Linked DNA regions of Homo sapiens. The protein of the gene in region 3 interacts with the protein of the main gene of each other region in a pairwise test. Each region holds a gene or a part of one and is shown on either strand. Other genes may lie near its edges.

What was found.
Region 1: the proteins of MAST2 (region 3) and CDHR2 interact in binary tests that used the Homo sapiens proteins (3 or more experiments, as listed by UniProt).
Region 2: the proteins of MAST2 (region 3) and STK36 interact in a two-hybrid assay, tested with the Homo sapiens proteins (one study listed by BioGRID and IntAct).
Region 4: the proteins of MAST2 (region 3) and SLC9A3 interact in a two-hybrid assay, tested with the Homo sapiens proteins (one study listed by IntAct).

What each region holds. Positions count from the first base shown.
Region 1 is NC_000005.10:176,544,679-176,552,358, forward strand, and holds the start of CDHR2 (cadherin-related family member 2 precursor), read left to right. Parts: upstream 1-4,663; 5' UTR 4,664-4,736; intron 4,737-7,680. UniProt on the Homo sapiens protein: Intermicrovillar adhesion molecule that forms, via its extracellular domain, calcium-dependent heterophilic complexes with CDHR5 on adjacent microvilli. Thereby, controls the packing of microvilli at the apical membrane of epithelial cells.
Region 2 is NC_000002.12:218,696,085-218,703,106, reverse strand, and holds the end of STK36 (serine/threonine-protein kinase 36), read right to left. Parts: intron 6,581-7,022; coding exon 6,506-6,580; coding exon of another isoform or gene 6,473-6,505; exon of another isoform or gene 6,110-6,472; intron 6,069-6,109; coding exon 5,894-6,068; intron 5,645-5,893; coding exon 5,497-5,644; intron 5,254-5,496; coding exon 5,106-5,253; intron 4,506-5,105; coding exon 3,759-4,505; intron 1,242-3,758; coding exon 1,098-1,241; 3' UTR 392-1,097; downstream 1-391.
Region 3 is NC_000001.11:46,016,600-46,023,621, forward strand, and holds part of MAST2 (microtubule-associated serine/threonine-protein kinase 2), read left to right. Parts: intron 1-2,996; coding exon 2,997-3,098; intron 3,099-5,350; coding exon 5,351-5,483; intron 5,484-6,310; coding exon 6,311-6,372; intron 6,373-6,633; coding exon 6,634-6,719; intron 6,720-7,022. UniProt on the Homo sapiens protein: Appears to link the dystrophin/utrophin network with microtubule filaments via the syntrophins. Phosphorylation of DMD or UTRN may modulate their affinities for associated proteins. Functions in a multi-protein complex in spermatid maturation.
Region 4 is NC_000005.10:514,445-521,466, reverse strand, and holds part of SLC9A3 (sodium/hydrogen exchanger 3 isoform 1 precursor), read left to right. Parts: intron 1-7,022. UniProt on the Homo sapiens protein: Plasma membrane Na(+)/H(+) antiporter. Exchanges intracellular H(+) ions for extracellular Na(+) in 1:1 stoichiometry, playing a key role in salt and fluid absorption and pH homeostasis.

The DNA.
Region 1 (7,680 bases), on a different chromosome or scaffold from region 3:
CCGCCCGCCTCGGCCTCCCAAAGTGCTGGGATTACAGGCGTGAGCTACCGCGCCCAGCCCCGAGTTCTTTCTAGGGTGGGAGGCTGTGAGTCTGTGACATCACGGGGATATTCTTGGGCTGGTTCCTTGTCTGTAAGAGCAACGAAGGGACTTTGTACCCTGCAAAGTGCAACTTCCGGGGATGATTGGGAAGTTGAGGGGTTGAATGCATTCACACCAGAGTCACTCTCAGCCCAGACTCTCCGGGTCACCTCTAAGGCTGTGCACTAGGTGGGCGTCAGAGGTATTACAGGTAAAGAAATGGCGGCTCAGAGGGAAGGAGAGACTTGCCTAACTTCAGGGCAAGCTAACGCTTGATTTCAACTTGATAAATTTCTGAGTATGCAGTGGGTGCACATAGCAGAGACAGGTAATGAGAAGTTTTCTTTTTTCCTTTTCTTTTTTTGTGGGGGGTGGGGACAGAGTCTCACTCTGTCACCCAGGCAGGAGTGTAGTGGTGCAATCTCGGCTCACTGCAATCTCCCCCCACCCCACCTCCAGGTTCAAGCGATTCTTGTGCCTCAGCCTCCTGAGCAGCTGGCACTACAGGTGCACGCCACCACGCTGGGCTAAGTTTTGTATTTTTAGTAGAGATGGGGTTTCACCATGTTCTACGTTTCACCATGTTGGCCAGGCTGGTCTTGGACTCCTGGCCTGAAGTGATCTGCCTGCCTCAGTGTCCCAAAAGTGTTGGGATTACAGGCGTGAGCCACCGCACTCGGCCGAGAAGTTTTTCTGATTAAAAAAAATTTTAAGGCACACACTTCAGACAGTGGCTGTGAAGGAACCCTGATGTGTATCTAAACTGTCGCCTCGTGCACATCACCCCATTACTTACTCTGTGCTAAGTGCTGTCATGCATTACATCATTACTCCTTAGAACAGGCCTATGAGGTGGAGTCTGCATTAGGCCCATTTTGGACAAGGACACCAATAGTGTGGGAGGTGGTGTACCTTGCCCAAGCCCCCAGCAGGTAAGTGGTGGTGGGGATTAGGACCCAGGTCACTTGAGTCCATATCCTGGGCTCTTAGTCCCACTCTGCCTGGCTGCCTGCTGCTCCGTGAAGCCAACCCTGGACCTAGACCTGGACCTGGATCGTCATAGCCCAGATCCCTGTGTGCTTCCCAGGCTGCCTTGTGGCAGGTGGATGGTGCCCCTCGAGATGGGCAGGGCACCATCTGGCCACACGTGCCTCATCGTGATGGGTCCAAAGGTCTGGGCAGGCCAGGACACACCTCTGTCAACCAGAGCAGTGACTCAGAGCTGTCGGCCTCAGCCGTAAGGGCAGGGAGAGGGGGCAGGGGCTTGGGTTGGGGTCTGCCCTATTTGGGGCACAGCAGAGCGACCAGGCTGACTCCCATGGTCTGAGGCAGAGCGGGGAGCCTGGAGCCTTGGGTGGGGTCACCTGCCTCTCTTCTTACTGGTTAAGCCACCAGCGATGACTAGTGCCTACTTCCTTCAGAGAGGAATCTGACGGCTGTGGCAGGAAAGTCAGGGGCAAGAATTGTTGCACAGATATGCTAATATCTCAGTTCTGCCACTTTCTGTAATCTCGGGTGGTGATCTAATCTGTCTAAGGTCTATTTTCCCATCTGTAATGGGGAAAAAAATCATCCCTGGAGTTATTGGCAGGATTAAATGAGGTGATATTAGTAATGCAATAGTCACCACCATGCCCCCACGAAAACTAACATTCATTGAGACCTTATTGTGTTGGGCATTGTGCTCAGGACTTCAAATGGGTGACTTCATTACATCCTCACCATCACCTGCCCAGGTAGGCATCATGTATTACCTGCAACTTACAGATAAGGAAACCGTCTTAGAGAGGTTATGCAACTTGCCCTGCCAAAATTGAACCCATTGTGAATATACAGTAGATAAAAAAAATAATAAAAATAAAATGAAATTAAAAATTGTGGCTGGGCAGGGCGGCTCACACCTGTAATCCTAGTACTTTGGGAGGCCGACACGGGTGGGTCACCTGAGGTCAGGAGTTTGAAACCAGCCTGGCCAACATGGTGCTCAAAAAAAAAAAAAAAAAAAAAAAAAAATTGAACCCAGCAGTCTGACCCCAGAGGAGCCTGGTCTCTGGTCTCTTAACCCCTGCATTGTAATAGTCGCATCGAGCGCTACCCAGTGTCTGCAGCATCCTTTCCTCAGAAACACTTCTCAAAAAGAGGAAAAGCCTCTTGGGTATCAAAACTCAGAACTGCATCATAGCTCCCAGAGCCTGGCTATACGCAAAGTGGTCTTTTTGGTCTTTTTTTTTTTTTTTGAGATGGAGTCTTGCTCTGTCACCCAGGCTAGAGTGCAGTGGGACAATCTTGGCTCACTGCAACCTCTGCCTCCCGGGTTCAAGTGAATCTCCTGCCTCAGCCTCCTGAGTAGCTGAGATTACAGGCACCTGCCACCGTGCACAGCTATTTTTTGTATTTTTAGCAGAGACAGGGTTTTACCATTTTGGCCAGGCTGGTCTCGAATTCTTGACCTGGTGATCCACCCGCCTCAGCCTCCCAAAGTGCTGGGATTACAGGCGCGAGCCACCAGCCTATGCAAATGTTTTAAAATGGATGGATGCTGGACTCAATGGATCTCAATTCCCTTTTTTCTTTGCCTGGGGGGAAGCTCAGAACCTGATTCATGACCCATCTCTACAATTACCCAGAACTTGAAGGCAAATATATATATATATATAATTTGTTTATTTTTTGAGAGAGAAGCTCTTGTTGTCTAGGCTGGAGTGCAGTAGCTATTCATAGGCACAGTCTCACTACTGATCAGCACCTGAAGTTTGACCTGCTCTGTTTCTGACCTGGGCTGGTTCAGCCTTTCTGAGGCAACCTAGTGGTCCTCTGCTCCTTGGGGTTCACCATATTAGTGCTGAATTTAGTGTGGACACCCCATCAGCATAGTGCCCTACAGCACAGAAATCCTGGCCTCAAGCCATCCTACTGCTGCAGCCTCCCAAGTAGCTGGGACTACAGGTGCACAGCAGTGCCCCCAGCTCAAGACAAGTATTTTATGGCCTCAATTCAGGCGTAGATTACCCTTATTTTTCTCACTTGACTTCCCTTCATCTGGGTTTCTTCTTTTTATGCTGGTGGCGTATAAATTTTGTTACTATGTTTTACATTTGGAGAGTTGGGAAGCAAACTATTAAAATGCCTGACTATAGCAACTGCCTGATATACAGTCAACACAACCCTTAACAACGGGGACACCTTCTGGGAAATGTGTCATCAGGCAATTTCGTCATTGTGTGAACATCACACAGTGACTTACACAAACCTAGGCGGTACCACCTACTACACACCCAGTCTCTATACCACCGCCTGTGCTCCTGGGCTGCTAACCTATGCAGCCTGGGACTGTACCGCACGCTGCAGGCAACTGTAACACAGGGGTAAGTATTTGTGCATGTAAACACAGAAAGGGTGCCATGAAAGATGATATTATACTCTTATGGGACCGCTATTATATGTGTGGTTCGTTGTTGACCAAAACACAGATATATGGTGCATGACTATATATCTATTGTGAATTAGACATGTCCTCTGCCCACAAGAAGAGGGCCACCCAATGGTGACGACTCAGTGGTGTGCCTTAAGAAAGTTGTGCCCAGGGTCCCCTTTCTGTGTCAACTGTGATGGCTGGGCCAAAGTGAGGATAAGAAGGACTTGTGGCTGAGCCCCTTCGGGAGGCCACCACATCGGGCAGCGCTTAAAGCCAGCCTGGGGGCCGAGCTCCGTGGCTCATCCCTGTAATCCCAGCATTTTGGAAGGCCGAGGCAGGCGGATCGCCTGAGGTTAGGAGTTCGAGACCAGCCTGGCCAACATGGTGAAACCCTGTTTCTACTAAAAATACAAAAAAAATTAGCCGGGTGTGGAGGCCCACGCCTGTAATCCCAGTTACTCGAGAGGCTGAGGTAGGAGAATTGCTTGAACCCAGGAAGCAGAGATTGCAGTGAGCCAAGATTGTGCCACTTCACTCCAGCCTGGGTGACAGAGCAAGACTCTGACTCAAAAATAAATAAATAATTAAAAAAAAAAGGCAACTTGGGAGTGGATGAAGCCCCTGGGGACGGGCAGATGCCTTTTGAGGGTCTCAATGCGGGGTGAGATCAGTGTCAACAGGCTCGAAAGTGGGTTGTCCAGGCTCAGCTAGCCCCCAGTCCTCCACGAGAACCTCACAGGGGCTGGTCTGGCCACACAGTGTTTGATTGTTACACTGTTTTACCACTTCCCTCTCCTGACTCAATCCCCCACTTGTCCACAGATCCCCTGTCACTGAAGACTCGTAGCAGGGAGGGGACGGGGGCTCTGGCATCACCTTCTGACTGTCACCGTCCCCGCCTCCAGCCTGCCCCAGTGTTGGGCCTTGTTCCCAGGTCCTCTGGGCTCAGGGTCGGCCAGGCCCCTTCTCCTGTGGTGTGGGCCTCCAGCCCCAGGAGCGCCAGGAGCTCTGGCGCCTTGGTCCCTTCCTCCTGTCCGGCGCCCCCAGCTGTACTCTGCCTCATTAGGAGTCGACCCCTCCTGGGAGGTGTGGTCTCTGGCAGGGTTAATGATTGCTCAGTGGAGGTGGAGATGGTGCCAAAGTCTGCTGGCCACATAGCTGCAGGCCGCAGAGGGTGCCCACCTGTGTGCCAGCGCCTGTCCGGCGCCTGCCTGCCGCCTCCGTGGCGAAGGGGACACAGGTAGGGACTATCCAGCTCATCGGGGGTCTCTGGGCCAGAGAAATGTGGGGGTTGGGGGGATCCCTAGAGCCAAGGCAAGCTTGGGGGTCTTTAAAAGTCTCCCCTGAAGCTGGGCAGGGGAAGTCACACGCTAGATGGGGCAGAGCCGGGTCAGGTCCCAGCCTGCTGTGAGGCCTGTTTCTTTGGTAAACATGGGATAATAATACCTCCTTCCCTGGGGGCTGATGGCCCCCTTCCCATCCAAGTCCTCAAGGGATGATTCTTCAGAGGATGGAAGGGAGGCAGGCACCCCAGGGAAACGAGGTAACTGGCCTGACCCCTTCATAGGATGCTCAGGGGTTGAGGACGGGGAAGCTGACCTGGGCTCTTACCCCAGCTGCTCGGTTCACATCCCAGCTCCACCCTGACCTTGGTGGGCTACTTAACTCTTCTGGGCCTCCGTTTCCTCATTTATCAAATGGGGATGAGAAGAGTTCCAGAAAGGGCCTGAAAAGCCCTGAGGCAAAGGTGAGCATGTGGCCTATGACCGAGCCCAGTGCCACCTCAGCCAGTGCTAGGAAGTGTCAGGCAGGGACTGACCCAGGCTGGCCCCAGCTCTGCCCAGTCCGGGCCTTGCACATCTCTCTGCCCTGGTAGAGGAGGTGGTGACCCAGCTGAGAGTCGGGGCCATGCTGCGTCACTCAGGCAGGCCTGTGCTGGGTTGGGCACCAGGCACAAGGCAGGGTCCCAGTGAGCACCGAGGTCCGGCAGATGGAAACAAGTCATGGCCCGTGTGTAGACCCCTTGATTTTTATCCTCACTCTGCTTCTCAGCAGGGGAAACTGAGGCCTGGAGAGGGGAGAGGGCTTGCCTGGGGTTGCACAACAAATATGTGAAATGCTGCCATCTGAACCCAGGGCTGTTTGAGTCTGTATGTGTCTGCTGGGCCAGGTGGCCTGGGCCATAGGCACTGGGAGGGCCCGTGGCGGGGAGCTGCGTGCTCAGGTCCCACATCCTTGCTCCGGGCACCCAGGCTCGGCTGGAGTCCGCTCTGTGGGTGCAGGCACGGCCTCCTGGATCAACGGAGCCCAGACCAAGGCTTGCCCAGGGACCCCTGGATTTGGAGGCAGCCTGGGTCTAACCTGCTGCCCCTGGCTCACCCATCTCTGGGCATCTATGAGCCTCGGTTTCCTTGGAATAATAGGATAGGATAATTCCTGCTTGGGAACAGCTGTGAGAAGTAAATGAAAAAGCAGAAGTGAAAGTGCATGGCGAGCTGGCCGTGTAGCGGTGGCGGTGCTGGGGGAGCTCTGTAGCATCGTGGCTGAGTGCACCCCGGGGGCTCCCCACACTGAAGGAGGACCCACCTCCCCACCCTGACCCTCCTGGAGGTCCTGGGCAGTCCGGGTATCCTCACTCCCAGTGGTTCCAAATTCTAGAAAATCTTGGCACCGTGGACTGCTCTGAGATGCGGCTGAAGCCTCCTCTCAGCCAAGGCTGAAGAGCTGGCACCTCCTGGGCCAGGTGGGACCAGTGAGGATTCCTGGAGACTACACATCTCATGGCGTGGGGGCCAGAGTCTCCCTGATTCTTCTCTGTGTCCTTTTTGGTCCTTCCCTAAGCACTTTCTTTTTGAGACGGATTCTCACTCTGTTGCCCAGGCTGGAGTGCAAGGCGCTATCTCGGCTCACTGCAACCTGTGCCTCCCTGGTTCAAACGATTCTCCTGCCTCAGCCTCCTGACTAGCTAGGATTACAGGTGCACGCCACCACGTCTGGCTAATTTTTTTTTGTGAGATGGAGTCTTGCTTGTCGCCCAGGCTCCAGTGCAGTGGTGCGATCTCAGTTCACCACAACCTCTGCCTCCTTGGTTCAAGTGATTCTCCTGCCTCAGCCTCCCGAATAGCTGGGATTACAGGTGTGCGCCACCATGCCTGGCTAATTTTTGTATTTTTAGTAGAGACAGGGTTTCACCATGTTGGTCAGGCTGGTCCAGGCATTTTTTGAGAGCAGGGAAACAACAGTAGTGGCCGGAGGGCTTGAGAACAAGGAAGCAGTAATTTCTGGAATATAGATAGTCCCCATTTTAAATTACTTTATTTTATTTTTATTTTTTGAGACAAGGTCTTGCTCTGTCGCCCAGGCTGGCGTGCAGTGGCGCGATCTCGGCTCACTGCAGCCTCAACCTTCTGGGCTCAAGTGATCCTCCCACTCTAGCCTCCCAAAGTGCTGGACTGTGTTTGCTCCTTTAAAAAATGAGAACTATTGGTATTGGCCTGGACTGCCACCACACCTAGCCAAGAGTTCTCTTTTTTTTTTTTTTTTTTGAGACAGAGTCTCGCTCTGTCACCCAAGCTGGAGTGCAGTAGCGGCATCTCGGCTCACTGCAAGCTCCGCTTCCCGGGTTCACGCCATTCTCCTGCCTCAGCCTTCCAAGTAGCTGGGACTACAGGCGCCCGCCACCACGCCTGGCTAATATTTTTTTTTTTTTTGGGGAACTTTTAGTAGAGACGGCGTTTCACCATGTTAGCCAGGATGGTCTCGATCTCCTGACCCCGACCCCGTAATCGGCCCGCCAAAGTGCTGGGATTACAGGCGTGAGTCACCGCGCCCGGTTAATAGTTCCCATTTTTAAAAGGAGCAAACAGAGAAAAGAGCCCAGGGGTACGGTTGTGCAGTGACTGGGACCTTGTTTCACACCCATGCGTTGGCCTGAGGCTGCCCCAGCAGGGAAAAGCGGGTGCCTGTCCGCAAGTCCCAGCCCAGGGGCAACTCCATTCACTCGGTTTCCATTTGTGCCTTGCTCCTGCCCCTTGCTGGGGTACCAGGAAATGAGGAGCCCAGAGTGGGGGCCACCAACTGCCTGAACACAGCTCCACAGCTGATCTGGGCCTTACAGAATGGAGAGGATTTGCATGTAGGCAGAAGGCAAAGAAAGACATTCTGGGCAGAGGGAATGGTTTAGG
Region 2 (7,022 bases), on a different chromosome or scaffold from region 3:
CAGAAAGGAGTCTCCTCATTTTATGGATGGAGAAATCAAGGCCCTGGAAGCTTGTTCTAAGCCATCCAATGAGTTAAGGTTTTCCAATGCTTCCAGTTAGATTATAATTCTAACAGGTCTGACTAAAAGCCCTTTCTGGTAAATTGTACAATCTTTAAAATAGCTATCCTTCTACAGCAGCTTGGAGTCCCTACACATTAGAACTCCACTAAATATTAAAATTAGTCACTAAGTCTGAGCAACCTAATTGACCGCTCTGTTGAATCTTACCCTTTCCTATTTCAGCTCCACCGGCCTTGACTTGAAAGTAGGTAACCAAATATAGTTCATCTAGGAAGGGGGAAATTGGTAAAGGCAAGAAATGATATAAATAAGCTGCCAGACCAGGATCTTGTGTGAACACGATACCAGCACCTCCAACACCACATAGAAGCTGAAAGAGGGGTTGAGCCTCTCAACCCTTGTCCTGGGAGCTTCAAGTATGGTGAGGCACAACTTTTATTAAAAGAGTTTACAAACAGAACTATTAAACACACACACACATACACACACACATATACACACACACCCCAAAAAAAGATACACTCTCCACGCCCACCCACAGATAGGAATGTTGGCTAAGGGATAATCCCTCAATAACAGGGACTGATGGCATTGATCCCCACAGCCTAGAGCTGAGACAGGCTCTGTCTTCATCACTGTCCTGGGGCCAGCACGTCTAAGGCAAAAACCTGCTGGGAAGATTAAAGGAGCTCCAGAAAGGAAGAGATCTTTCAGGTTGAGGTTTTTCCCTAAGGTCCGTGAGGCAGGTCCCTAGAGTTAAAGGCACATTATTGGAGAAAAGGCCCCTGGATGTAGAGAAGAAAGGACTCTTCTCTGGCACCAACAGCAATAAAATTTACTGGTTGAAAACATCCTGCATCTGGGAGAAGGAAGAAGCTTTATATATAAATCTCTTCTAGTTTCTTGTTCTCAGTTGAGTTGGCAGCTTATCTCTTTTCTAGTCTCTTTAGCTCTCAGTTGAGTTGGCGGCTTGTGTAGTAGAATAAGAAAGAGCTGGCAACCAAAGTTGGAGGCTGGACCGCAGGAATCTGGAATCACATGCTATGGGCTGGCCTCAGGAGGTGAATGAGTTTCCTGCAGTGTTTGGCAGAGGCAGGCCTAGGACTGCTGTGTGGCAGTGACTGATTCCCCAGAGAGAGCAAGGATAGTTTCTCACTGGCACCCAGGGACACCAGTACCTGTAGGATAGAGAACAGATGATAGAACAGAACATGAGGCTCAGAAATGGTGGTGTCTGGGGCAGGTGCGGAGGACTCTCATTTACCCAGGAATTCCCACTCGAGAAGAGGAAGAAAAAGGAAATGGGCTCTTGGGGACTTGGAATAGACTGAATGGCAGAAGAGAAACCTTGGAGATAGGAATCATCAGGACCAGAAGTCTACTTCCATTCTCTTTGGTTATAGACCATGAAACCAAGGCACTAAGGGACACATATACTTGTCCCCAGGAAGACTTGATGAATGCAGCAGTAACTCACAGTAAGCCAAAAGGTCTAATTCCTAGCCTTCAATGCAGACCAGTGAGTTCTAACCTCATTACCACCAAGAATCCCATTAATTATTTTCCCCATGGATTGCACAAGATTCCTATAGGATCTTCACCATCGGCCAGGCAAGGTGGCTCATGCCTGTAATCCCGTACTTTGGGAGGCCAAGGCGGGCGGGTCACGAGGTCAGGACATCGAGACCATCCTGGCTATCACGGTGAAACCCCGTCTCTACTAAAAAAAAAAAAAATACAAAAAATTAGCTGGGTGTGGCGGCAGGTGCCTGTAGTCCCAGCTACTCGGGAGGCTGAGGCAGAATGGCGTGAACCCGGGAGGCAGAGCTTGCAGTGAGCCAAGATCGCGCCACTGCACTCCAGCCTGGGGGCGACAAAGTGAGACTCCGTCTCAAAAAAAAAAAAAAGATCTTCACCATCCTCTCAAATTTCTGCTCTGCATGAACTTCCCAATGCTACCACTTTGAGATGTCATAATTTATATTACCATATGTAGATATCTGTGATTTCCAATGGGCTTTTTTTTTTTTTTGAGACAGAGTCTCGCTATGTCACCCAGGCTGGAATGCAGAGGCATGATCTCCGCTCACTGCAACCTCCTCCTCCCAGGTTCAAGGGATTCTCTTGCCTTAGCCTCCCGAGAAGCTGGGATTACAGGCGCCTGCCACCACACCCAGCTAATTTTTGTATTTTTAGTAGAGACAGGGTTTCACTATGTTGGCCAGGCTGGTCTCAAACTCCTGACCTCAAGTGATCCGCCCACCTCAGTCTCCCAAAGTGCTGGGATTACAGGCAAGAGCCACAGAGCCTGGCCTACTGGACTCTTTATATACTGAAAATCGCGGTCAGGCAGGGTGGCTCACACCTGTATTCCCAACACTTTGGGAGGCTGAGGCGGGTGGATCACTTGAGGTCAGGAGTTCAAGACCAGCCTGGCCAACATGGTGAAACCTTGTCTCCACTAAAAATGCAAAATTAGCCAGGTAAGGTGGTGTGTGCCTGTAATCCCAGCTACTTGGGAGGCTGAGACAGGAGAATCACTTGAACCTGGGAGGCAGAGGTTGCAGTGAGCCAACATTGTGCCATTGTACTCCAGCCTGGGCAACAGAGCGAGACTCCATCTTAAAAATAAATAAGTAAATAAATAAATAAATAAATAATAAAAATACAAAGATTAGCCGGGCATGGTGACAGGCACCTATAGTCCCGGCTACTCAGGAGGCTGAGGCACAAGAATTGGCTGAACCTGGAGGCAGAGGTTACAGTGAGCTGAGATTGCGCCACTGTATTCTGGCCTGGGCAACGAGTGATATTCAGTCTCAAAAAAAAAAAGAGTGGCTCACGCCTATAATCCCAGCACTCTGGGAGGCCAAGGCAGGTGGATCACCTGAGGTTGGGAGTTCGAGACCAGCCTGACCAACATGGAGAAACCTGTCTCTACTAAAAATACAAAATTAGCCAGGCGTGGTGGCACATGCCTATAATGCAGCTACTCGGGAGGCTAAGGCAGGAGAACTGCTTGAACCCGGGAGGCAGAAGTTGTGGTGAGCCGAGATCATGCCATGCACTCCGGCCTGGGCAGTACGAGTGAAACTCTGTCTCAGAAAAAAAAAAAAGGAAAAAGAAAGTTGCGCAGAAGAGGAAGGATAAAGTAGTGGTTAAGAGTACGGGCTCTGGACTCAGACTTCTGAGTTCAAAAGCCCAATCCTACATACTGTCCTTGTAATTTGGACAAGTTATTAAATTATTTGTGCCTCAGTTTCCTCATCTGCAAAATTAGGATAATAATAGTTTAAACCAGATAATAAAGGTAAAATGCTTAGCATCGTGCTTTTCTCATGGTAAGTCTAAAAAAAAAATAGTCAGCACCTTCATGGCACACAGAGTAAAACTACTCTATCTCAGCATCTCTTAGTCTTCCCTCATCTCCCTCCTGCACAGCCTCTAGAAGAGATCAACTGTGGTCCTTGAGATCTCAGACATTTCCCAGCCCATTGGAGCCCTCTTCTAGCTCCCTTCCCTCCTCCAAGGCAGGAGATGTAACTAGAAAACTCACTCCAAGACACTGTCCCTGGGAGAAACACGGCATAAGTTTCTCCATGTCCCGATTCCAATTCCTTACAGATGATCTCAGAGAAATGTTGTCAACTATAGGGGCCCTGATCATCATGGTTCATAAGTGCTGTAGGGTATACCTGATGGATGCCAGGCTCCTGTTGCAGGCTCCGGAGGGCAATGAGGGCAGCCTCCTTCACATTTGGCTGGGGGTCTCCACATGCCATTTCTAGGAGCCGCTGGGGTACTTCGCACTGTAACAGCTCCTCTCCCAAACCTTCAGGTCCCAAGTTGCCCAGAGCTGATGCAACATTGCGCCGGATACCAGCCTGAGGATCTCCAAGCAGCTGGGTCATACTGGGCACTGCAGCTGCCAGGGCAGGTCCCAGAGGACCAGCCTGGTAGGCTGCATTGCCCACAGCAAAGCTGGCACTGCACCGCACAACAGGATCCTTGTCTCCAAGCCCAAGCAGCAGAAGGCTGAGCAGTCCAGACTGGCTCTGCAGTGCCCCACGCAGGGCCATGCTGTGTTGGAGCAAGTGTCCCAGGAGCCTATAAGTGTGTGCCCGCACAGAATTCTCTGGGTGGCCCAGGAGGCTGCGCAGGGGCCGATAGGATTCATCAGAGCCAGCCAGAAGCTCTTGGATAAAGGACAAGTGGCTGGGAGACAGGACCCTGGCAGTATGGGCCAGCAGAGAGAGAAGGTCGGAGGTCAACAGTGGCTGGTCACTCAGGAGGGCAACTGAGAGAAACGAGACGATGGTTCTAGGGGAGGCAGACACTGTGTTCACAAACTGGTTGAGAGAGGTGGGATCCATGAGGGCCAGGCGTGTGAGAAGGCTGATGGGCAGCTCCACTTGCATCAACGGAAGATGGTAGCAGCAGACCTGAGAGAACAGGAGGTAAAAGGATTCAGGGAGAGAGAGAGTATATGCAGCTATAAAGAAGCCCAAAACCTGGGAGAGAGAAAAGCCAAGCTATGGTGAGAAATGCCACAGAGAGCTGGAAGTCCTGCCCCACAGCACTCCACATGAGACACAACGTGGAGCCTGAGAGAGCAGGTTCTTTCCAAGATCATTCCTTACTTTGCAAGGGCTCAGTCTCTGCCTTCAAAGACCCACTGTGAAAAAACAAAAAGAAACAACAAAAGAACAAAGACCCACTGTGCAATGCCAAGAATTGCCAGAAACATGATTCCTGGCCAAGGAGGTGAGTCTTCAGTGCCTAGACTAGGATGTTCTCCCCAATGAGCACCAACAGAACCAGGTGATGGACTGATGGAGAGGAGGAGGCACCAACCCAGCTCCCACCACATGCCTCCACCACATGCGCAGGTCTGAGTACTGTCTCCACGCCAACTTTTGAGTCAAGCCAGCTGTTCCATGCTTACAGGGGCCTAGAAGAGCCCTGGAGCTGCTGGGAAGTAAATTAGAGGATACAAGGTTGGCTATCTTCCTCTCCCACCTTCATGCTAGCTGCCCAAGTACCTGCAGCAGATGGGCTGCAACTTCTGAGTCCCTGAGGTCGGCCAAGACACCTATAAGGAGGTCAGCATCCATGTCCAGCGCAAAGGGGAAGCAAAGGAGCTGGCAGACAGAGAGCACCACGACAGGGAGAAACTCAGACCCATGAGGCCTAAGGAGAGGAATGTCGAAGAGACTTGGTCTTGTTCACTTAACCTTTATCATTCCTCCCTCCCTCCTCCAATTCCTTTGCCCAACTCCCCTTCTACAGTCTCAGCCACTACTTAGGTTTCCAGCCTAAACCTGATCTCATCTTTCTTGCTTTATAGCTCAATCTGTCAGTAACTTCTTTCCTGCCTTCTTCTTTCTCCCTCCCCGTTGCTGACTCTGTGGCTCTCTTCTAGCTCAAACTCACGCCTGGCGCAGTTGATTCAGGAAGCTGGGGCAAAGCAGATGCTTCAGGATGGACATGAGGATACTTCCATGCTGGGACAGGCAGCTCAGGCATAACTGGGGCTCCTGGGTAAAGGTGGCCATGGCCAGGCTCAGCAGGGCTGCCATGCCTGGTAACACCAAAAATGGAGACCCAATGGAACAGGCAAGACGCCCAGATACCCCTGCTTCCCCACAGCTCCCAGGGCTACACCTATTCAGTCCCTTCCCCATCTTAGAGCAGCTCTAGTGCAGACACTGCTTCCTGTCCCCAGGCAAAAGCAAAAAAAATAAACCTCTGTGGGTTAACCCAGTTCTGGGCTGCCTCCTCTTGAAGAGAGATCAATGCACTCCCAAAAAGGATACTGATAGAAAGATACCCTGGGGAGAAATCAGTGTCCAGTCTGGCTCAGGGCTTGGTGGACTGGATAGCGAAAGCTCCCCTTCCTGTGCAGATGCCTCCTCGGGGAGCCTCAGGACCATGGAGAAGCGGTGCCACAAAACGGTCCACATTTCTGAACTGGACATATCCCTGATTAGGCTAGCCTTCCCCTGCTAGAGATAAAAGTGAAAGAGGGCGGGGGGAAAGACAGAAGTCAGGAATCCAAATGCTTTTATTCATTCCTGTCCCTGACTTACAAGTAAAGGAAGTCCCAGAAATAATTCCTTCCGCTTTCCCACCTAGTATTTCCCTGTCGTCTTATTTCATTTTCTTATCAAACCTTAACCCTCTGACCTCACAACTCATGTGTATGTCTGCTGAAACCCAGGGAATTCATTTTATCTCCCACTGGATCCCAGGGGACGCAGCGAATGGTTTCCTTCAAAGGGTCAGTACTGAGGGCAGGCGGGGAAGTTCCAAGGCTATCACAGGCACAGTAGCTTGAGAGGGAAGGCTGTGGGTTGCTTCTTCATTCCTCTGGTCCAGAGGCTCCCCAAAATGCCCAGTTCCTCTCTCTTTACTTCCCATCCATCCCAAGATCCATCTGTACCTCAGTGAGGAGCTGCAACAGAAGGATAAGGAGGCCATCATAGAATCCACAACTACCTGGTGGAGTCAACCGAACCTGTCAGAGAGAAACATGAAGAATGCAGGTGCCTAAGAGGAATGGGGTGTCCGTTAAACCAAGGCAGGTCAGTGATGGTGCCATGGAGGGAACAGATTTGAGAGTCAACCGGAAGGTAGAATATATGGGGCCTGGGGGAACCATTTCGGTGGGGGAATAATGGGGAAGAGAGAACAGTCACTGATGACTCCCAAAGTTCTGACTTAGACTTCTGGATGAGTGTTAGTGCTATCACTAGTGATACAACCTCTCTGAAGGCTAACTTAGTCTAGAAAAAGCAGATGAGTATTATTACATTGGTGTGTCTATATTTCAAGTGTGTTGTGGGATAACATGTGAAAATGTTTTATAAATTATAAAGAATTCAGCCACTGAGGTAGCTCACGCCTGTAATCCCAGCACTTTGGGAGGCTGAGGCGGGGGGATCAGGAAGTCAGGAGTT
Region 3 (7,022 bases):
CCTAGGAATCCAACTTACAAGGGACGTGAAGGACCTCTTCAAGGAGAACTACAAACCACTGCTCAGTGAAATAGGATACAAACAAATGGAAGAGCATTCCATGCTCATGGGTAGGAAGAATCAATATCGTGAAAATGGCCATACTGCCCAAGGTAATTTTTATAGATTCAACACCATCCCCATCAAGCTACCAATGACTTTCTTCACAGAATTAGAAAAAACTACTTTAAAGTTCATATGGAACCAAAAAAGAGCCCGCATCGCCAAGTCAATCCTAAGCCAAAAGAACAAAGCTGGAGGCATCATGCTACCTGACTTCAAACTATACTACAAGGCTACAGTAACCAAAACAGCATGGTACTGGTACCAAAACAGAGATATAGATCAATGGAACAGAACAGAGCCCTCAGAAATAACGCTGCATATCTACAACTATCTGATCTTTGACAAACCTGAGAAAAATAAGCAATGGGGAAAGGATTCCCTATTTAATAAATGGTGCTGAGAAAACTGGCTAGCCATATGTAGAAAGCTGAAATTGGATCCCTTCCGTACACCTTATATAAAAATTAATTCAAGATGGATTAAAGACTTAAACGTTAGACCTAAAACCATAAAAACCCTAGAAGAAAACCTAGGCATTACCATTCAGGACATAGGCTTGGGCAAGGACTTCATGTCTAAAGCACCAAAAGCAATGGCAACAAAAGCCAAAATTGACAAATGGGATCTAATTAAACGAAAGAGCTGCTGCACAGCAAAAGAAACTACCATCAGAGGGAACAGGCAACCTACAAAATGGGAGAAAATTTTCGCAACCTACTCATCTGACAAAGGGCTAATATCCAGAATCTACAATGAACTCAAATTTACAAGAAAAAAACAACCCCATCAAAAAGTGGGCGAAGGACATGAGCAGACACTTCTCAAAAGAAGACATTTATGCAGCCAAAAAACACATGAAAAAATGCTCACCATCACTGGCCATCAGAGAAATGCAAATCAAAACCACAATGAGATACCATCTCACACCAGTTAGAATGGCAATCATTAAAAAGTCAGGAAACAACAGGTGCTGGAGAGGATGTGGAGAAATAGGAACACTTTTATACTGTTGGTGGGACTGTAAACTAGTTCAACCATTGTGGAAGTCAGTGGGGCGATTCCTCAGGGATCTAGAACTAGAAATACCATTTGACCCAGCCATCCCATTACTGGGTATATACCCAAAGGACTATAAATCATGCTGCTATAAAGACACATGCACACGTATGTTTATTGCGGCACTATTCACAATAGCATTTACTGTTTTTCTTTCCTTGTATCCTATTTACTACTCAATCTTCTGCCTTCCAGTTTCCCTTCCCACCAGTCTACCAAAACTGTTCAGGCAAAATTCACCAAGGAACTCACTGGCCAATTGCCAAATCCTGTGGCCACTTTCAGTTCCCATCTTCTGCCACCTCTCGGTGGAGCACAGTGAATACTTCCTAAACTTCCTTCCCCAGTTGTCAATTCACTGTTCTCACCACTCTTGCTGCCTCTTCACAAGTTCCTTTGCTGCCCACCTCTTCCTACTGGTGTGTCACAGGGCACCATCCGGCATGCCTGGTCTCCCCTTTCTCTTTCCTCCACTCTCTCTCTGATGTCTTGCCACCTGCTCCCATGTCTTCAGTTGTCATCTCTACGCTGAGGACTCCCACATGTGGCTGCCACTCTTACTGTTCTCCTGAGCTTCAGATCAGTGCACCCAGCTGCCTGCTGGACTCCTCCACTTTGACTTCCCTATATTGGTTCTTATTCTTTGGTTGCACGTAATAGAAACTGATTCAGAATAGTTTAAACAGTAAAGGGAAACATTATAAGAGTAAAAGGAGTAGGTCTTAGAGAATTGAAGCGAGGGATATAACCAGGCCTTAAGAAGGAACCAGAACTAGAAACCAGAAGCTCCAGGAAGCTCAGGAAGTCTTCATTCTTCCTTTTTCTGTATGCATCTTTTCCTCTATTTCCATGGTAGGTATGCATCTCTTTTCACAGTTCTTAAACGGTTCTGCCACACTGACGTTAACAGTTGTCTTTCTATCCTTTTTTAAATTCCTAGGAAAGTGATCCTCTCTGGTCAGCTATTAGAGGTGGGAGGGAAGGTACAGACACACAGTACAAATGTGGCTCCTAGAAACCAGAGCAGTTCTCAGGAAAAAAGAGAAAGGCCCATCGGCCAAGCAGATACCCAAGAGACTCTCATATAGGTGCCTGAAACTGCACGCCCAGAACTGAGCTTATCTTTTCTGCCTAGCTGTTCTTTCTCTAAAACCAAATGCAGTACATTCTTTACCTATCACCTAAATGGCTTCTTATAGTTACTATTTCACTTATTCATTGTAATTTTCCTAAAATTGAAGTTGTAGTTGCCTTCTGTCGTGCTTCTTTCACCCCTTATCTGCTTCTGTAGTAACCCACGTCTATCCCCTTGTCTGCATTCTTCTGCCTTGACCTATGCCTTTTTCATCTGAATTATTAGAGTTGCCTGCTAATGGGTTTTCCTGCATTTAGCCTTGCCCTCTTTAGTGTACTCTCTACACTGCAGCCAGAGTGATCCTTCTGAAGTACTTTCTGGTCATATGACTCCTCAGCTTTGAGGTCTTTCTACTCCTTACAGTCTAGGGTGGAAAGTGAACATCAGTGAAGGCACCATTGAGAGCTGCCCCTTGAGCTAGGGTCTGGAGGGTAAGTGAGGCTTGTTGGATGGAGGAGCAGGTACAGCTGTATGTCTGTGTGGCATTTCTTGGTGTCATGTAGTGTTCTAAAGCAGAAATGGTTCCCTATGAGCAACTCGCTCCCTCTCACAGCCAGCCAGCCTTCTCTGAGTTCCTTGCTTTGCGGAGCTCTCTATGCTACCGAATTGTTTCTCCCTGGAGTCAGCTCTGCCCTGTCTGGTCCTGCTTAGCCCAGCCACACTGGGCCAATAGATTAAGCAACGCTTCTTTTCTCTATAGGCTCATGAGCGCTCAGAGAGCTCAGAAGTGGCTTTTGTGATGCAGCTGGTGAAAAAGCTGATGATTATCATTGCCCGCCCAGCACGTCTCCTGGAATGCCTGGTGAGTGGACTCTAGGAAAGTCAGGTGGGCAGATTTAGAGGAGGACTATAGAGGAAGTATCCTGATGACAGCAAAACTGTGGTGGTAACCACTGCCATTTCTGTTGCTTAGGTCCTTATTTAAATATGATTTGCCACCATTGGGGGACTAAACAGGTTTTTGTGAGGACAAATGTATGGTCCTGAGGGGATGCGGCAGGGAGAATTATTAGTCTAGGCCACCCCCACATGAGCAGGGCTCACATCAGTGGGGGTCTTGGGGGTGAGAAGCGTCAGGAGCATAGCCCAGTTTAGTTTGTACAAGTTGAGTCCTTCATTTTATCTTCAGCAATACTTGACTGAGTACCTACTTCCTGCTAGACACTGGAGATACAGACATGAATAAAGCACAGTCTCTGATCTTGGGATGTTTCCTCTACAGTGGAGTTGGGAAGCATGAGGCATGAGGACATGTAAATAGTAATTACAATACTGCAAGAAGTGTTGCAGTTGAGGTCAGTACACAGCGTAACGGGAACCTGGAAAAGGAAGTGCTTTAGTCTTCCCTGGAAGGAACATTCAGTGAATGCTCCCTGGGGGACGTGAGGCTTATTCAGCAAACTGAAGGATGAGTCTAAGTTTCCCAGATCGGGAGCATGGGAAGGAGCATTCAGTGGGGCACAGGGTGGGTTTGAAGAAGTGCTGAGGGGTAAGCCTGGAAGGTAGGCTGTGACAGGGTCATGGAGGGTGTCGGGTTCTCGGCTCTGGAGTTTTTCATTACCCTTACGGCCACTTGGAGACACCAGAAAGTTTAGGTAAGAATGTGACATGGCCGCATTTACTTTTTTCTTAAAAAATATTATTAAGGTATAATTTTCATACAATAAAATATATCCCTTTGATGGTACAGTTCATTGAGATTTAACAAATACACACTTGTAGAATCGTGGCCACAGCTGACATAGAGAATATTTCTGTCATATAAGTTCCCTTGTGCCCCTTTGAAGTCAGTCCTCTCTTCCTCCTGCTCCCAGACAATAACTTAACTGCTTTGTTTCACTAGGGATGGGTTTGCCTTTTGTACAGTTTCCTAGAAATGAAACCATGTTTCTGTGTGGTTTCTGTAGTATGTTCTGAATTCTTTCACTCAGCATGTTTGTAGAAATTCATACATGTTGTTGCATGTATCAGTAATTGGTTCCTATTTATTTCTGTGTAAATATTACATCAGATTTAGTCCTAAGAAAGATTACTTTGGCTGCAACATGGATAGTGAATTGGAAGAGAGGGCAGGATGAGCCAGGGACATCAGGGGAGAGGTACTCAAAGCAAATTCATGTGAGATGGGGTGGCCAGAACTCAGACAGTGAATGGTAGGATAATAGAGAGAAAGAGGTGGATTAGAGGGGTATTTATGAGAGAGACATTCTGACCAAATAGGAGCTAAGGAAGGATAAGAAGTTAAAAGGACTTCCAGGTCTGGCGTAGGTTATATCCAGATAGGTACAGTTCTCCAAAACAGTGAGGCCACAGGGAATGAGAACAGAGTTCAGGGCAGAGGCTATGCTGTGATAGAGCAGAGAGCCTCTCCCTCAGGAACATGAAGTCCTTGGCTAAGCAGGGGCTTGGAGTCAGACCTGGGCTGAATGCTGGTTTTCTGTTCCTTCCTACTACTGTGATTATGGACAAATCAGTGCATCCCTGAAAGCCTTGATTTCCTCAGTGAGGTCAAAGAGTTGCTAGAGGGTTTAACCCAGTGTGTGGCACTTAGTAGGCACTCAGTTATTATGTGCAGACAAGGATTGTGCTTTTCAATGGATTTCCAGCCTCTAGCACATAGGAGGTGCCCAGTAAATATTTGAAGGTATACATGCACCAGTAGGGCTTTGCCAAAGCTCTTGTGAGCCATAATTGAGTGTGTGCCAGGACAGCTGTGGACTGGGCATCTGAATACACCAGACAGTGCCACCTGGCTGATGGAAAGCATGGGACCAGATCAATAGGCTGAGCTCTCTTTAGAGTAAAACCTCTAGTTCTTACTGCCAGGAAGACAGCATATGCTTAGCATGTCCAATCTGGAGGTGACCTGTAAGACATCTTTGTCCCCATTCCTGTGATCCCTGAATCATGTTGTTTCTGAATATTCAGGGGTGGGAGTGTCCTATCACAGAGAAAGTCTTGTTCATCTCAGTCTACTATATGCTGTAAAACCAAAGATGCCAGCAGCTTTCGCTTATATCTGTCACCACTGACTATCTCTCTCCCTTGGTACAGGAGTTTGACCCTGAAGAGTTCTACCACCTTTTAGAAGCAGCTGAGGGCCACGCCAAAGAGGGACAAGGGATTAAATGTGACATTCCCCGCTACATCGTTAGCCAGCTGGGCCTCACCCGGGATCCCCTAGAAGGTGAGCATGCTGCCTAGTGGCTGCAAAGAGGCCCCACTGCTGCTGGCAAGCTCTAACAGCAGGGAAGCTGCTTGGAAAAGAGACTTAGCTTGGACATGGACACAACATGGCCCCGGGGGCCTCAGGATTTTAGGAGATACCCTGTGATCTCTGTGACAAAACAGTCTTTACTTTGGAACTGCTGTTCACATCTGCCTGATAGATCCCAACCTGGATTGCATTGGCCCGGCTGAGTTGCATTTAGAACCTCAGTTCCAAAGAGGTCAACAACAAAGGGCCACAATCACATTTGCAAAAATGGTCACCTCCTCTGCAACTTGCCTCTACTCTTGGCCACCTTACAGGTCTTCCTGTGTCTTTGGGGTAGTCCAACACAGGGCTTCAGAGGATACTGCCATTCTTCTGGGCTTCCTGCTGAACCCCTGCAGCAACCATGGGCTTCCAAGTCCCTGGTCTGTAGGTATCCTGCTCCTGCCTTCTGTGCTTCCCAGCCCCATCCAGTGAAGCAGTCTTGGCCAGCAGGATGGGAACTAGTAACCCAGTTTCAGGCCCTGTTTTCCAGGAAATGTCCCCAGTTTATAGAATTTGCCAGGCCCTGTGAATGGCAATGGACTTCTGGAAATGGGAGTAGCAGTAGGATTTGGCTTGTTTCCTGATCCAAAAGCTGGGACTACATTGGGTATAGTGCCATGGGACTGAATTCACATCCTAGGCTGATGCAAAAAGCATTAATGACTACCCTACATGCACCTGTTGTGTGATCTGAGGATACTGCTGAGATACCTGACATTGCCACGCACATTCTTCTCTTGTATCTTTGTTTCCAGAAATGGCCCAGTTGAGCAGCTGTGACAGTCCTGACACTCCAGAGACAGATGATTCTATTGAGGTAAAAACCCTGAGCTCCTACCCCATTCCTGGAGCCTGGGCCCTATGAAGCAAAGAGCTATGAATTCTCTTTAAGAGAATATCTGAGGAAGGGATGGGGGAGTTGGTGACAGCAAACACTGAGAAGTCATTCTACTCCCAGAAGAATGAGCAGGAGACTGCACTAGAGCTGACAGCTGAGAAGATGCTAGAGCCACAGCTTCTGCAAGGATATGGGCTCTGAGAAGCATGCCTGTCTCCTGCCTTTTCCCTTGTCTTCCAGGGCCATGGGGCATCTCTGCCATCTAAAAAGACACCCTCTGAAGAGGACTTCGAGACCATTAAGCTCATCAGCAATGGCGCCTATGGGTAAAGGCAGGGGTCAGGGTGTGGCCAGGACTGAAGCCGGGTCAGCCTTTGATCTCTTCCATGTGAGAGTGTATGCTGCCCAGTCCTCTGGGCAGATGCCTCGGGGTGGACCTTCTCACTCCCAGAAGCCTCCTGGGTGGGCAGGAGTTCAGATTCCTCTGACATCCGATCATTGTTCCTTTCCCAGACAAGATTCCCACGCCTCTTACTACCACGCATCCTCCATTCCCTGAGCTCTGGGGAAGCATTGAGCCGTGTCATCAGGACATGGTCTATCAAGAAGTTTAAGAGTTCTATGGACCA
Region 4 (7,022 bases), on a different chromosome or scaffold from region 3:
TTCTTCAAGCCATTTGTAACCTGGTTGGGGAAATAAGAGTCCGGGTACCCTGAAACCCACAGCAATGTTGATCCCAGGAGATTTCTACTCCAGGCAGCTTGGGACAGAGGATGGCCAGAGGGCCAGAGCTGCCTCAAGCAAACACTGGGGCTGGGGCCTCAGCAGGTGGCCCAGGAGCCTGGGCAAGGAACAGGTGCTGCTGTTGGCCCACCAGCCTCAGGCCGCGTGTCTGGCTCCGGCAAGGGCTCCCCACAAGCCCCCTATTTGTGTGCACTGGGGTTCCCCTGCCTTTTACAGCATCTTTTTAAAATGCAGAAGGGGAGGCAAGGGCCGAGGCCACGGAGCCACTCCACAGCGCAGACCTCCCAGACTGAGAGGACGAGGAAGTCTTTAGCAGTGGAGGCGGCAGGGCCTAGTGTCTGCCTCAGGCAGGGTGAGGGGGCTTCCTCCTGTGCCCCTTGGGGGCCCCCAGCCTGCAGCCACCCGCACCAGGGCCACTCTAGGCCTTAGGTGCCCACCAGAATCCCCGCCTCACCCTGCACCGTCCGTGTTGGGAACCCTGGGCCAGGCTTTCCTTCCTTCCTGGGCTTCCTCTGGGGGCTGAGGCTGTGCCTTGCAGAGACTGCCAGGCCTGGCAGCACTGGGTGGGGGCCCTGGGGTGGGATCCAGGCAGTGGCAGGTGTCAGGACTGCAAGCAATGGGCCCCTGGAAGGAGAGGGAGGCGGGGGTGTCAGAAGCCAGAGGAGGAGGCCTAGGGTGGGTCCCTGGGGAGGCAGAGGGAGGCCCGAGCAACTCAGCTACAGGCCTTGGAGGACTTTGGTCCCCACCTAGCGTCGTGGTGAGGAGTGGATGTGGTCAGATCTGAGTTCTCAGACGACTGCCTGGCCATGGGGCAGAGAATGGCACCGGGGAGATTCCGGGAGGATGGTGGGGAGCTTCCCTTGGGCATCAGGGCGGTGGACAGCAGGGCCTCCTTGAAGCAGGAGTGGGGATGTCACAGGGTCATCAGTGACACAGCAGGGGCCAGACCTCCTGGCCCCATCCTGTTCTCAACCCTTCGGGGGGCTCTGCTGCGCTGACCTCGCCCTGCAGCTCTGAGCCACACATGAGCGACAGGACCCGACCAAAAGGGAACTGGGGGAGTTACAATTTTGAGATGTCGGAAACCGGGGAGGGGCTGGGGCCGGGAGTGGATTCTAGGCCCAGCTGGGTCTATTTGTCCCCAGGCGTCTGGCCGTGGGTACCCCTTGGGTCGTGGACGCACAGGAGGTGTGGGAGCTGACATCCCATGGGGCCTGAACTCCAGAGCTGGGCAGCGCTGGCTCAGGGAGGTGGCGCCTTGAGGGTTAGGACCTGAGCAGCGGCAGTGACTGCCCACGGGGAAACCAGGACAGTGGGGCTGGGTGGGGGCGGTGGGGGCAGGCTCTCGAAGTGGAGCTTGTGTTGCTGAGGGATGTGATGGCGGAGGCCCAGGCCGCCCCACATCTTGGTGAACCCTGGCTGGAAGGGCAGGCAGGAGCGAGACGGGTATCTGGAGTCTGCAGTGCCTCGCGCAGCCGTAGGAGGGTCAGGAGGACGCTAGGGCACAGGGTCAGGAGTGCAGCCCCCTGCTCTGAGCGGCGCAGCCCCCCCACCCCCCTCTGAGCGGCGTTACCCCCACTGTGGGAGTGTGGGAATGCTTTTCTGCAGGAGCTTCAGCCTTGGGGTTCCAGCACCTCCTCCTTAACTGGACAGGGTCAAGACCCAGATCCCTGAGCGCCAGGTTCCCTGCTCCCGGCCCCAAATCTGAGGCACTGGGTGCTTCCTTGTTGTCTGGGTGGGTGCAGGAGGTCGTCCTCACCCGACACTTGACTCCCGGACCCCCGCTGTCTTACCCAGCGTGTCCCAGGGAGCCTCCGCCACTGGGGGTGTGACACTGCCTAGACCACCTGCCTAAGCTGTGGATTTCTCCCAGGTGCAGCCTTCCACCGGGCACTCAGTGCCCAGGCTGTGAGGGCAGCTGTGGGTCACCTTCACCTCCTGGGGTGAATGGTTTTATTGCATGTGCTCTGGTCCTGGAGGCAGGAATCCCTCAATGCGCACAGCACCTACCCCTTCACCATATCTGCTACCCACTCCAGCTGAACTGCCCTTAGGTTCTCCTTGAAGAAGCATAGGAAAGGAGGTTCTGGGGACAAGGATGGCCTAGAAGGCCAGGGTGGTCAGCAAAGTCCCCAGGGGACCCAGTCCTCCCAGGAGAGGACCAGTGAGTGGGCCCTGTGGACCCCAGTCCTGGCAGGAGAGGTATGCTCAGTGGGTTTGGAGTCAGGAGCCATCACGGGAGGCCTGGAAGCAAAGACTCTCCCAGGAGTCTCCACAGGGGAGGGTCTGGCCCTGAAGGGGTGAAGTTTCATTTTCCAGGAGCTGCCCACGGAGAATCAGCTGTAGGCTATAAAACAATCCATGGCGTTTGGAGCTAAGGTGTCGCCCGGGAGAATCCTGAGGAAAGGGGCAAAGGTTGGGAAGTGCTGATAGCATCGGGGCAGGGAAGGAACCACCAGGGCTCCCTGTGGGTACCTGGCAGCTCCGCCAGAGGCTGAGAGAGAGACAGGGATGGTGAGTCACTCTTGGCCGCCAGCCCCCCCAGCCCACTCCCTGCCACCCCAGGAGCTCCCCGCCTCTGGGCGTGTGTGGCGCTCCCTGTGACCACACAGGCTTGTTAAGATGCCTGTCTGGGCCCAAGCTCCAGCACCCAACCAGCCTCATGTCTACTGCAGAAATGGCTGAGCTCTCCCAGCGTGGCCACCCCCACTGCCGGCTTCTCCAGGAGCCAGGGGCTGCACTGGGGCATGTTTAGAGTTGGGGTTCCCATCCTGCACATCATCTGCCCAGCGTCTGGGCTGAGTCCCACAACCAGGAGTCTCAGTGCACGATGAAGCCACCAAGGCTTTCCTCACCCACCCTTGAGACAAGAGTCTCAGGATACCAGGTGTCAGGGTGCCAGGTGTTGGCGTGCCAGGTTTCTGGGTACCAGGTGTTGGGGTACCAGGTCTCAGGGTGCCAGGTCTCAGGATGCCAGATCTCCAAGTGCCAGGCCTCAGGGTGCCCGGTCGCGAAGTGCCATATCTCAGGGTGCTAGATCTCAGGGTATCAGGTCTCAGGGTGCCAGGTCTCAGGGTACCAGGTCCTGGGATGCCAGACTCCACCCTCCCCCAAATCATGCACTCACCCCAGCTTCATCCCTTCACACTCAGCATCTCTCCTGCTCCACCTTTCCTGAGCTCGGAGCCTTCCTCCTCTGAGCTCCTGAGGACACCTCCTCCTCCAAGGTCTTTTGGCTCAACCAGGTTGATGCCACAATGGCAGAGGTTGTCTGTCTTATTCCTCCTGTGTCCCCAGTGCCTGTCCCCAGCAGAGTCCTGCAGATCTGAGCACGTGAATGGACATGTGGATGGATGGATGGATGAGTGAATAGATAGATGGATGGATGCGTGGATTGATGAATGGATGAATGGATGAGTAAATGGATGGAAGGGTGGATGAGCGAATGGATGAATGGAGTGAATGGATGGATGGATGGATGATGGGTGGATGGATGGATAAGTGGATGGATGGATGGATGAGTGAATGGTCAGATGGGTGGATGAGTGGATGGATGGATGGATGGATGGATGGTTTGGATGGATGGATGGTTTCGGTGAATGGACGAGTGGATGGATGGGTGGATGGATGGATGGATGGGTGAATGGATGGATGGGTGGATGGCTGGATGGCTTGGGTGAATGGATGGATGGGTGGATGGATGGATGGATGGATAGATGGATGAATGAATGGATATATGAATGAGTGAATGGATAGATGGATGAGTGGATTGATAGATGGGTGAGTGAGTGGATGGATGGATAGGTGGATGGGTGAATGGATGGATGGGTGAATGGATGGATGAGTGGATTGATGGATGGATGAGTGAATGGATAGCTGGATGGATGAGTGGACTGATGGATGGATGAGTGGATGGATAGATGGCTTGGATGAATGGATGAGTGAATAGTTGGATGGGTGGATTGATGGATGGATGGATGAATGAATGGATATATGGATAAGTGAATGGATGGATGGATGAGTGGATTGATGGATGGGTGGGTGAGTGAACTCATGGATGGATGAGTGAATGAATGGATATATGGATGAGTGGATAGGTGGATGAGTGAATGGATGGATGAATGAGTGAGTGAGTGAATGGACAGATGGATGGATGGCTGATGCGTGAATGGTTGGTGGATGGATGAGTGGATTGATGGATGGATGAGTGAGTGGATGGGTGAATGGATGAGTAAATGGAGGGATGGGCGGAAGGATGGGTAGATATGTGGATGGATGGATGGATGGATGAGTGGATGGATGGATGCACCCACAGGTGGGTGAAGGAGGAATGAACGAATGAGTGGATGGACAAATGGATGGATGAATGCACACATGGGAGAGTGAAGGAGTGGAGGGATAAACATTGGCTTCCCATGTGTAAGCTTCATCCAAAACCATCTGGACACTGGGCCCAGGAAGAGGCTGTCTCAGCTCCTCGGCTGAATTATTTCCTTAAATTACTGCAGAGCCTCCAGTGAGCAGCACACCTACTTCTGGATGACAATGGCTTTAGAGGCGCCGCCTGCCAAGGAGTGGCAGACTTAACCTGCAAAGTGGGATCATTGACAAGCAATTGCAGCATCGGCTCAGAGCACTTTGGCAGATCTGGGCTCAGCATGGTGAGCACCATCTGCCCCACACAGAGCTCTCTCAGGAGTGGGTCATGTGCCCAGAGAGAAACCACGCTCACCTGGCCTAAAACATGCTCCACTGTCAGCTGAAATCTTAGCTATGCCTTAGCTATATGCCTTCTGGAATAAGACAGACAAACCCAGCCCCATCCTGATGTTGCCAGACCTCGGAAGATGCAGACACACCCTGGGCAGGCCCTGACTTGGTGCTGGAACTGCCCAACCTGGCACCCTCCTGGGACACAGAATAGAACTCGGGTCACAGGCAGCCAATACCCTTAGCATACCAACCACTTTTAGGAGCTTGAATGGTCTCATCCGTCTTATCGAGGTAGCCCAAAATGCTGGACTTTGCAGCAGCCAGCGCTCTGGGCAATGGAGGAGCTCTCTCCAGTTTAATATTCATTCAATAAACATTCAGTGCCCATCACGCCCTGTAGGCAGTGGGGATCCCACTTCAAATGAGACCCAAATATCCCATGGGGCAGCACTCCTGGGCACCAAGGACCAAAGACAGTCAGGAAGCCATCCCTGGGGCAGAGGGGGCAGCCAGCCCTGTGGGTTAGGGGGAAGCATGTCCAGGGAAGGGATAGCCAGAGCGAAGTGCCCGAGGCAAAAAGTGTGGATGAGGGTTAGGGGGAGAGTGTGTGTGTGTGTGAGGGGCAGGGGGAGTGTGTGTGTGTGAGGGGGCAGGGGGAGTGTGTGTGTGTGAGGGGCAGGGGGAGTGTGTGTGTGTGAGGGGCAGGGGGAGTGTGTGTGTGTGTGTGAGGGGCAGGGGGAGTGTGTGTGTGTGAGGGGCAGGGGGAGAGTGTGTGTGTGTGAGGGGCAGGGGGAGAGTGTGTGTGTGTGAGGGGCAGGGGGAGTGTGTGTGTGTGAGGGGCAGGGGGAGTGTGTGTGTGTGTGAGGGGCAGGGGGAGTGTGTGTGTGTGAGGGGCAGGGGGAGTGTGTGTGTGTGTGAGGGGCAGGGGGAGTGTGTGGGTGTGTGAGTGGCAGGGGTTGTGCATGGGTTTGTGAGTGGCAGGCGGTAATGTGTGGGTGTTTCAGGAGCAGCGGGATGTGTGTGTGTGTCTGAGGAGCAGGGGACCCTGTGGAGGATAAGCAGGAGCAGCAGGTGGTCCTTGCACTCTGGCCGTGTGATGACCATGTTCAGCTCTGGGTTGCTCCCTCACATTGGCGAGTGCCCTTACAAGCCTGAGCTCTGGGCTCCCTGTTCTATCCGACTGCCAGCCTTCCCTTGGGGCTGGCTGTGTGTCAAGTCCATTTCCAAAGTGTCGTGTCGTCAGTCTAGGAAGAATTGAGATGGAGCCTGGGGCCGTGTCCAGGTGGAGTCAGGAGAGCAGCCAGGGTGCCCAAGGGGTTCCCGTGTGTGCACCGTCCACAGGGGCCTGAAAGGAAGGAGGGAGGGGCGGGCAGAGCAGGAGGGGCTGTGGGAATTCCACAAATGGGGAGCGGCACATCCTGGGAATGGGCCTGGCCGTTTGTGCTGCTGTGCTGGGGGTGGTTAGGGCTGTGACAGAGACTCCAGGCTGATGGCATGGACTCTGGGGTGGGAGACCGAGAAATCTCCCCATGGACTCTGGGGTGAGGAGTGGGGGGCCGAGAAATCTCCCCATGTCTCCCCATGGAAGGCTCTGCCTTAGGGAAAGACCAGGTGACCTGTGCCAAGCTCCTGGTCCCTGGAGGGCGGCCTTTGAGTGCATCCCCGAGGGCTTTGTGCTGGACCATCCCAGCCGGGACCCCCTATCTGGCTCTGGGAGCCAGCCCTGGGGAGGGACAGAGCCAGGGTCCCCTTCTGGACTGTGCAGGGCTAGGGCAGAGGGAAGGAGCGGGAGCCAGGGACGCACTGGCAGCTTCCTCCTTTCTGGTGGATCGGGGAACCTGCAGGCTCACCGCCTGCTGAGCTGTCATGCCAAAGTCCAAGGGTTTGAGTTCTTTGTTGGGAAAGGGTTTCTTTAAGCCTGAATGGGAAAGTTGAAAATGCCTGTTTTTAAGAGCTTTGGGGGTGACACAAAGTGTGGAAGAACAGCAGCTACTGCGGGCTCCGTCCTCAGATTCAGCCCCAGATGTTTGGTGCAGAGGACACGGGGCTGACCAGACGGTGAAGGCAGATTCCCCTTAGAACCCGGCCCTCATGGGGCCCTCAGCGGGCCGTACCACTCCTTCCCCACCTACTGGATGTGGGAGCCACTGGGCAGGACTGCCTGAGGGGCCACAGTGAGCAAAGCCCCCGACAGGCAAGACCCGATGGGCCTCGGGGGGCAGGGTGGG